3 separate regions of the Homo sapiens genome follow, and regions 1 and 3 are each reported to be linked to region 2. The links are microRNA targets in miRTarBase. Many come from high-throughput screens and were not tested one by one. Region 2 holds a microRNA gene; each other region holds the end of a gene's coding sequence.
What was found. The annotated mature microRNA hsa-miR-8065 reads UGUAGGAACAGUUGAAUUUUGGCU and lies in region 2 at 2,306-2,329, shown strand. An mRNA with a match to its seed (bases 2 to 7 or 8) in the 3' UTR can be bound and repressed. Matches are read on the target gene's strand: a 7mer-m8 pairs with bases 2 to 8, a 7mer-A1 pairs with bases 2 to 7 and ends in A, and an 8mer does both.

Region 1 (3,000 bases), not on the chromosome of region 2:
GGAAGAAGGGGGTGAGGAGGATGGGGGCAGCGATGGGATGGGAGGGGACGGCAGCGAGTTTCTGCAGCGGGACTTCTCGGAGACGTACGAGCGGTACCACACGGAGAGCCTGCAGAACATGAGCAAGCAGGAGCTCATCAAGGAGTACCTGGAACTGGAGAAGTGCCTCTCGCGCATGGAGGACGAGAACAACCGGCTGCGGCTGGAGAGCAAGCGGCTGGGTGGCGACGACGCGCGTGTGCGGGAGCTGGAGCTGGAGCTGGACCGGCTGCGCGCCGAGAACCTCCAGCTGCTGACCGAGAACGAACTGCACCGGCAGCAGGAGCGAGCGCCGCTTTCCAAGTTTGGAGACTAGACTGAAACTTTTTTGGGGGAGGGGGCAAAGGGGACTTTTTACAGTGATGGAATGTAACATTATATACATGTGTATATAAGACAGTGGACCTTTTTATGACACATAATCAGAAGAGAAATCCCCCTGGCTTTGGTTTCGTAAATTTAGCTATATGTAGCTTGCGTGCTTTCTCCTGTTCTTTTAATTATGTGAAACTGAAGAGTTGCTTTTCTTGTTTTCCTTTTTAGAAGTTTTTTTCCTTAATGTGAAAGTAATTTGACCAAGTTATAATGCATTTTTGTTTTTAACAAATCCCCTCCTTAAACGGAGCTATAAGGTGGCCAAATCTGAGAACAATTAAATTCATTTTAGTTATAATAAATTTAATATTTGTAAATGTAACATAGTTTCAGTGTGATTTCTAGAGCTAATTCAAAATAGTATTGATATATTTTATGTGACTGCATTTTTGGGGAGGGGTACCGAAATCGTTAAATTTGTCAGTTTGCAAAAATATCAATCTTTAATGGGAGAATTTTCAATTTGCCAATTTTTTCCTTGAATGGGTTTAAGTATGCTACAATATACAGTTCAGGCAAAATTTAAGATGTAATTATCTTCAATACTTAAGTGTGCTTGCTTTCTAGTGCCTTGGTTTTCTTTCTTGATGCTGGAAAAATAAACAAACCGGTATTGAGTGTTTAGGCGAGTGGAAAGTGGCTACAATCCAAAATTTTAAATTTAACTCTGCCTCGGCCATTCAAAAGTCTAATAACAAAAAATGTAAACCTAATTTGGCAGTTTGTTAGGTTAGACAACTGACAGCCTCATTTCATTCCTACAAGTTGGTTTTCAGTAATCTCTTCCTTCCCCCCAGTAAGGCTGGAAGAGGCTCTTGGCAAACTTCTTAGTGCAAGCAATGGTTAGATTAATTTGTGAGGCAGCTCTTTAAGACGTTCAGAGGTAAGAAATACTGGATTTATAAAGCAAATGGCTGTTTGGGGGATTCCAAGGATTTACCTAATTGTCCAATTCTACGTGCTCTCTATACCAAAACAAAAAAAAAAAGCTATCCACCTTTCCATGTGGGTCAAACTAAAATTAGAAATGTCCCCTCACTGCAGATCAAATGTAAAGCTTCCAGTTAAGGAGCTAAATGAGGTCCTCAGCTGAATGAGGAACCCTGTACATCCCCTTGCACAGCCCTATTCTAAATCGCTTAAACTATGCTGATAGCTGCTTAGGTTCTTGAGTAGTTCTGCTCTTAAACGTAGGGAGGCCCTGAGAACTAAATTTTGCCCCAAAATAAAAACAGAAATTATGAGATTGCCTCCTGTCATTTTGGTTAACCCAGTCCTTCACCTGCCCTGTGTCAGTGTCTTCTGAGGGCAATTGCGTTGCTCAAATCACTAGCACAGAGGTTCCTTAATTTGGGGCCTTAGAAACCATTGTGGGCCTTGGGGTCCATGAACCCCATGAAATTATTTGTAGACTTGTATGTACATTTTTCTGGGGAGAAGGTTCAAGAGATTCATAAGATTGTCAAACTCCTTGAAGGTTCAGAACCTCTGCAGGGAAGGGGGAAGAAAACCCTCCCATTAGGAAGCATGCTTTTGCAGTTAAATGGCGATGGTGGAGGTGATAGGGACTTCAAGAGTAAAATGCACCTTGTATTGCATAAGAAGCATACACAAATCAATAAATCAAGGGAGATTATACCAGTAGGACTGAATCAGGGCCTTCAAAGCTGGACTGAGTTGGTCCTGTTCTGGCACATATGGTCCACTGGAGACAATGTATGATTGAGTTTTTCTTTGGTCTAAAAATTATATTAAACATTTATTTTGAAATAGTTTTCTTCGTGTTTTTTTCTTCTGCTATGACGTCATGCAGCAGCCCCAGAAAAACAGCTGCTTGGAAAGGCAGCAACAGTGCCCTCTGGCTTTACAGTGCAGAGCTGAAGCCTCATTTTGACTGAACTGTAAGATGCAGCAGTGATTATCTCTGATATTAGACCCTTTTTCTTTATTTTTTTTTTTTTTTGAGACGGAGTTTCGCTCTTGTTGCCCAGGCTGGAGTGCAATGGTGCAATCTTGGCTCACCGCAACCTCTGCCTCCCAGGTTCAAGCGATTCTCCTGCCTCAGCCTCCCTAGTAGCTGGGATTACAGGCATGTGCCACCACCCCCAGCTAATTTTGTATTTTTAGTAGAGACGTAGTTTCTCCATGTTGGTCAGGGTGCTCTCGAACTCACGACCTCAGGTGATCCGCCCGCCTCGGCCTCCCAAAGTGCTGGGATTACAGGCATGAGCCACTGCGCCCAGCCCAGACCCTCTTCTTAAAGAGGGATTCAGCTATGAAAATCTTATTTCCCCTAGTATTAGAAAAATGATATTTAGAAAATGAATCTTGGAAAGACTATAAATGCATTTATCATCAGAAAAAGTATGTTTTAGAAGACAAATTCAGCCCAGTCTTCAAATATACAGATATCTAGGCTGGGCACAGTGGCTCATGCCTGTAATCCCAGCACTTTGGGAGGCTGAGGTGGGCAGATCACCTGAGGTCAGGAGTTAAGAGACCAGCCTGACCAACATACAGAAGCCCCGTCTCTACTAAAAATACAAAAATTAGCCGGGTGTGGTGGCACATGCCTGTAATCCCAGC
Region 2 (3,585 bases):
GAGTGGATCACCTGAGGTCAGGAGTTCGAGACCAGCCTGGGCAACATGGTGAAACCCTGTGTCTACTAAAAATACAAAAATTAGCCAGGCATTGTGGCACATGTCTGTAATCCCAGCTACTCAGGAGGCTGAGGGAGGAGAATCGTTTGAACCCGGGAGGTGGAGTTTGCAGTGAGCCAAGACCACGCTATTGCACTCCAGCCTGGGTGACAGAGTAAGACTCTGTCTCGAAAAAAAAGAAAGAAAAAAAGGAGAAAACTTTGGGACCTTAGACATCAGATGTGCCCCACCATCTGATTACAAAAGTTCTTCAATCTCTGCCTGCAGGCCACGTCAGGACCTTCAGAGCACTGGCGGGTGGCTTTCATGATACTCTTGATGGAAAGGACTGAAGTTTCCATTGATTGGTGGCAGTGCCCTCATCAACCAGCGTTTCCCAGAGAGAAGCCAAGCCGGCTTCTTATTCTTTTTCTATCCTGATGGACGTGGGCTTGTCATTCATACCCAGGCAGTATCTGGAGGGCCAGGCTCTAACTCTCGCCTTGGACTTCAATTGTTGGAAAAAAGGCAATGAGGGAGATAGAGTGTGTGGATGAGGAAGTCATTTCAGAGGGGAGCAACTTGAACTTTACATGTTTTAGTTTGCTGATGTTTAATGACCAAATATGTTTTTTTTAGTTGGTTTCTGATGTTATTTTCTCCATCTATTCCAAAACAGCTGCAGAATGGCAACATTTGACATTTAAGAAAGGGAAAGTGGGAGTGGTGAAGTGATTCCCCTTGGAAGGGTCGCACTTGTATCTAGAGGTTGTCCACAACAGATGGCCAAACCAGTCCCCAAAACGTGACTGTTGGCACTCAGAGGTGCTGCATCTACATTTGAAACAATCTAAAGCAAAGCAAAGAAAACTCAACCGGTCATTGAGTATGTCGGAATTTGCTCTGATGAAGGTGATGAGGTTGATGATGATGATGTTGGTGGCTGATGTTACTGGTCAGGGTCTTAGAGGCTCTCTCCAATCCTCATGCACATTTAAAAGTCTCTCTTCGGGCAGGCGTGGTGGCTTACGCCTGTAATCCCAGCATTTTGGGAAGCCGAGGCAGGTGGATCACGAGGTCAGGAGTTCAAGACCAGCCTGGCCAATATGGCAAAACTCCATCTCTATTAAAAATACAAAAATTAGCCGGGTATGGTGGCGGGTGCTTGTAGTCCCAGCTACTCGGGAGGCTGAGGCAGGAGAATCTCTTGAACCAAGGAGGCGGAGGTTGCAGTGAGCCGAGATCGCACCACTGCACTCCAGCCTGGTGACAGACCGAGACTCCATATTTAAAAAAAAAAAAAAAGTGTCTCTTCTATGTATCCATTACATTTTGACTTCAGTTTTAGGTAATTTATTGCAGACTCCTTTGCCCTTCTGCATTCATGTTTCCCACCTCCTAGAACGGAAGCTACTTGATCATTGCCTTCCCCTACCCTCATTTTTTGTACTTAGTATTGAGTTTTGGCTCTTAGGAGGTGCTTACTGAGTATTTATTCAATGAAGTGTCCAGAGTCTGGTGAAAGGAAGTTGAGCATTGTCTAGATGAGCTTTTCTCTTACAAAGTCAAAATTTGGCCAAAGGCAGCTCCCATTGTAGGATCATTTTCTGGGATGGACACTGGGGTGTTCACTAGGGTCAGGTGAATGATAGAGTGGAGACAGTAGAAATGGCATCCCCAAGTAGGAAAGAAAGGTTAAGCCTCCACCTGTTTGCTCTCTATAAGCTTCCGTCTAAAGATCTCACAGGAGGATTGGATGTCTGAGCTTTCTTTTCCAGTCCTACTTAAGCTAGGAAGCCAAGGAGGGCACAGAGGTACCAGAGGAAGGGCATCTGTGTGTGCCCAGAAGAGGCCTCTTCACAAAGGACACAGGATGCAGGTAAGCTACTTCATATGGTACCTATCACATGTATGCATTCAGTATACTAAAAATAATTATTATTCTGTATTAGAGACGATGTCATGAGACAACTAGCCACAGTCTGATGAACGAGAGTAAGGATGAATATGGGAGTTACACCTGCTGGGTTCCCAACCCACATCAATCTCTGTGTCCCTTGGGCAAGCCCTTTTACCTCTTGTAGCTGTTTCCTGGTCAACGTTATTTGACCCCCTTAAGATGGAGATGCTAATAGCTACCCTGTATGTTGTGGTGAGAATCAAATTAAGCAGATGAAAAGTGCATAGCATAGTGACAGCTCAGTACATGAGAGCCATCATTTTTGTTGTTGTTGTATTTTTCAGCAAGGCAAGGGCTTTGATGTCTTGTAGGAACAGTTGAATTTTGGCTTCATGTAATTACACACAATATCAGCGGTGATTTATCTGGAAATAGCACTCACCTCCAGGCCCTGTCCACGAGCCACCTAGCCCAACTATGTTTATTTGTCTTTTGTTTTGGAGCCTATAAGGGCATATTGGGAAGGTTTAATACAGCCGCATCACTGTGATTTAGTGAGCACTTACTGTCCCGCACATGCTGCTGTGATAACACTTTACAAAGTGGTCATGAATGAGCCTTCCTTCAAACCTGTGAGGTAGGTACTCTTCCATATAAGCTGGGAGAACTGCAGCACACAGAATTTCCGTAACTTTCTCCACTGTGGCTAAGAAAACTGGGCTGGGAACACAACCCAGGTCACCTGATTCCTGGGCTTGCAATCTTAACAACTCCTTTTTTTTTTTTTTTTGAGGTGGAGTCTCACTCTGTCACCTGGGCTGGAATGCAGTGTTATGATCTCAGCTCACTGCATCCTCTACCTCCCAAGTTCAAGTGATTCTCCTGCCTCAGCCTCCTGAGTAGCTGGGACTGTAGGCACCAGTCACCATGCCCGGCTAATTTTTGTATTTTTAATAGAGACGGAATTTCGCCATATTGGCCAGGCTGGTCTCGAACTCCTGACCTCGTGATCCAGCTGCCTCGGCCTCCCAAAGTGCTGGGATTACAGGTCTGAGCCACCACGCCCAGCCAACAACTCTTTTACATCAGTGCAAGTTGGAACATTTTGAAGCTCCCACTCTTCTCCCTGGAACCACACACTTCTGGTTTCTTTTCTCATTCCAAAGCATAGGTGCTCTTTTTGTAAAAAAACTTTCAATAGTTTTAGGGTTACAGGTGGTTTTTCATTACATGGATGAGCTCTTTAGTGGTGATTTCTGAGATTTTGTTGCACTCATCACTGGAGCAACGACTCTCTACCCAATATGTAGTCTTTTAGAAAATATTCACAAACTGTGTATCCGACAAAAGACTGACATCCAGAATCTACAAGGAACTCAAATCAACAAGAATAAAAGAAATAATCCCATCAAAAAGTGGGTAAAGGGCTGGGTGTGGTGGCTCACGCCTGTAATCCCAGCACTTTGGGAGGTCGAGGTGGGTGGCTCACCTGAGGTGGGGAGTTTGAGGTCAGCCTGGCCAACATCGTGAAACTCCGTCTCTTCTAAAAATACAAAAATTAGCCGGGCGTCGTGGTGCATGCCTGTAATCGCAGCTGCTCAGGAGGCTGAGGCAGGAGAATGGCTAGAACCCAGGAGGCGGAGGCC
Region 3 (3,000 bases), not on the chromosome of region 2:
CTGTTCGATGACTCTGACCATCTTCTGGGTTTATCTTTCTTCTGATCCTATCCCACCAGGAGATTGATGGCAACGCTCTGCTGTTGCTGAAGAGTGACATGGTCATGAAGTACCTGGGCCTGAAGCTGGGACCTGCACTGAAACTCTGCTACCACATTGACAAACTGAAGCAAGCCAAGTTCTGACTTTTTTAAAAAGACAGAAGCGAAACCCAAAACAACAGATCCCAAGATTATCTTCTGCCTTACCAATATCCCGCCAACATCACAAACTAGACTCTCCTCTTAAAATTAACAGCCACAGAGACGTGGTCTTTTTATAAAACTTGTGAATCTTTGCCTTTTGAAGAATTTAACATGGACCTTTTCGAGAGGCTCCTCTGTGTTCATAATTTGCCAAAAAATTACAAAAGCCTGTGATTTTTAACATCCCTGTTATGCTGGTTTCTCTTAAAGTGGGTCCTATTTGCATAACGAGAGAGTGGGGAACTGAATGCTTATGCCCAAGGAGAGTTCTGGAGGGTTCAAAGGATGAAAGAAGGACCTTTGTCCCTGCGGTCTCTGCAGGGACAACCCCCTCAGCACCATCTGCCTCTAACTCTGACCTGGGGACCTATCCATGTGAGCCTTGTTTGCCTCAGCTCTGGAAGCTGACTTCTGAAGATGACTGCCTCACCTTGCACTGTCTGGAAAACTTGAATTATTTTACGCCGTGAAAGAAAAAGGAAAAAAAAAAAAATCTTTTCTGTTCCTAGAAAATCTGAAGTACTGTGTTTCTCCGCTAGAGGGCAGACTGCTAATGAAATTTCAGGACCCTCACTGACTGCAGTAGCAGGATTGTTCAGTACTGAGTGGATGGGTTAGGGTGTCTGTGAACAAGATCTAGCCCACACAGAAACAGGGGATTTATTCCACAGTTAGCACCACAGATTGCGACTTGGGAAGAAACCATCAGCTAGAGGGGTCTAGTTCGTATCCAATCATTATTGACTGACTGACTGATACTCAACTAGCAAAGGCAAGAATTTGGAAGCACGCTCTACCCAGATGGGACTTTGGAGTTCCTTCCCTTCCAGAGTCCTTATTGAGGTGTTGAAGTGTTGGCATGCCGAAGAATCTTAGTGACATTTAGCCATGGGTGTTTCTTTAAAAAAGGAAAAGAAAATGTCTCAACGAAGCTTTGAAATGGGAGAGTGTTGATTTCTAGTTACATTGCTGGGTTATGTAGTTGTATCTGTGGCTAATTTTTCTAGTCCTCAACAAATACACAGACATGCTATTATGGGGTTTAATTCAATTTACAAATAGGTTTTCCTTCCTCACAGTGGAGTAATAGAAAAAATTGATTTTCTGCTCCTTTGCAGCTGTGTCCAGAGACGGACAATGAATCCACAATTTATTAGGCAGAGGCACAACTTCTCCACCATTCGTTTTATCCTTCTCTTTTCTCTGTTTCCCTCCACCTCTCTTCTTCTTCTTTCACACTGAGCAGAAAACATATCTTCAAAATGAATTCGCCTTTGCCATGTGCATATTCTCTTCCTTAAAAGGACATCAACAGTGTTGGAGATGAGGAGATGAACATTAGATTTTGGAATTTCTGGGAGGGAGAGGGTTAGGGATGACTCAGGGCCTCCCTTCGCCCAAAGGTGAATCAGAAAAGGCACCCCTTTCTCTGGGATACAACCTGAGCAGGGGTCTCAGCTGGCAAGTGGAGCAGGGTGGGGGCTCAACCTCCTCACCGCTTGATCAGCTGCCGTTGTACAGAGCATGACCTGTATAACCTTGAGGGCAGCCCTGGGTAGATCTGCAGAGTGACCCTCTATATAGTTAGAATCCAGATGAAGGCCATAAGAAATAGTCCATGCCATGCCGTTAGGCCCACTTTCATGTGCAGTACTTGAGAAAGCACATCGTAGCCTCCTTTTCAGACACACAAATGGCGGCTGGACTGAGAGCATGGCAGAGAAGGGGAGGAGGAGAATGTACTAAACTTGCTCACTGAATTGAGCTTGAGTTATTAGATTGTAGAAGAGCTTGATGTCTGGTGATTTTGTTACAGGAAGGGGGTCCCGATCCAGACCCCAAGAGAGGGCTCTTGGATCTCATGCAAGAAAGAATTCAGGGTGAGTCCATAAAGTAAAGTGAAAGCAAGTTTATTAAGAAAGTAAAGGAAGGAAAGAATGGCTACCCCATAGTCAAAGCAGCTCTGAGGGCTGCTGGTTGCCCATTTTTATGTTTATTTCTTGATATGCTAAACAAGGGGTGGATTATTCATGCCTCCCCCTTTTAGATCATATAGGGTAACTTCCTGATGTTGCCATGGCATTTGTAAACCGTCATGGCACTGGTGGTAGTATAGCAGCGAGGACAACCAGAGGTCACTCTCGTTGCCATCTTGGTTTTGGTGGGTTTTAGCCAACTTCTTTACTGCAACCTGTTTTATCAGAAGGTCTTTATGACCTATATCTTGTGCTGACCTCCTGTCTCATCCTGTGACTCAGAATGCTTTAGCCATCTGGGAATGCAGCCCAGTAGGTCTCAGCCTCATTTTACCCAGCTCCCATTCAAGATGGAGTTGCTCTGGTTCAAATGCCTCTGACAGGTTCAGCACCTGAGAAAAGTACCTTGAATCAGGCCTTGGGGCAGAGTCTTCAAGATTTTAAGGTGATAGGGCCTGTCTCTTAAGAATTTATTAATCGTAAGTGCTCACTGCTGGTTTAGAGTTAGATACATTTCCCTCAAAACAGCCATGGGCAGGTTATGTACTCAGAACTGCCAGGGTGAAAACAATGAGATCCAGAAAAATCCCACAACAATCCAGGTTTTTCACTCCTCTTTTTTTTCTCAATCTTCCGATACTTGTGGTACCTCTTCCATCAACAGATACCTCATGTAGTGACTTCCAGTATCAAGTTTTCAAAACTTCCTACCCACCCTCATCAGTGCCTCCTTCACTACAGAGTCACAAACATTGGTGCTCTCAAATAAAAATCAGCCC

Region 1: the mRNA of HEXIM1 is a reported target of hsa-miR-8065. Seed matches in the 3' UTR shown: 8mer at 1,170-1,177.
Region 3: the mRNA of SCML4 is a reported target of hsa-miR-8065. Seed matches in the 3' UTR shown: 7mer-m8 at 2,926-2,932.

The regions. Positions count from the first base shown.
Region 1 is chr17:45,149,916-45,152,915 of GRCh38, forward strand. It overlaps HEXIM1 (HEXIM P-TEFb complex subunit 1), which reads left to right. Exons shown (of 1, transcript NM_006460.3): 1 at 1-2,184. The coding sequence ends at 355. It overlaps HEXIM2-AS1 (HEXIM2 antisense RNA 1), which reads right to left. Exons shown (of 3, transcript NR_186789.1): 3 at 1-1,004. Among named protein-coding and RNA genes, the nearest start is that of HEXIM1, 2.9 kb to the left of the region's middle. RefSeq lists an enhancer at 1-218.
Region 2 is chr16:5,630,228-5,633,812 of GRCh38, forward strand. It overlaps MIR8065 (microRNA 8065), which reads left to right and starts at 2,240; the gene lies at 2,240-2,339. It also overlaps a transcript of RBFOX1 not described here.
Region 3 is chr6:107,702,385-107,705,384 of GRCh38, reverse strand. SCML4 (Scm polycomb group protein like 4) reads left to right here. Exons shown (of 8, transcript NM_198081.5): 8 at 60-3,000. The coding sequence ends at 185. Among named protein-coding and RNA genes, the nearest start is that of SCML4, 120 kb to the left of the region's middle.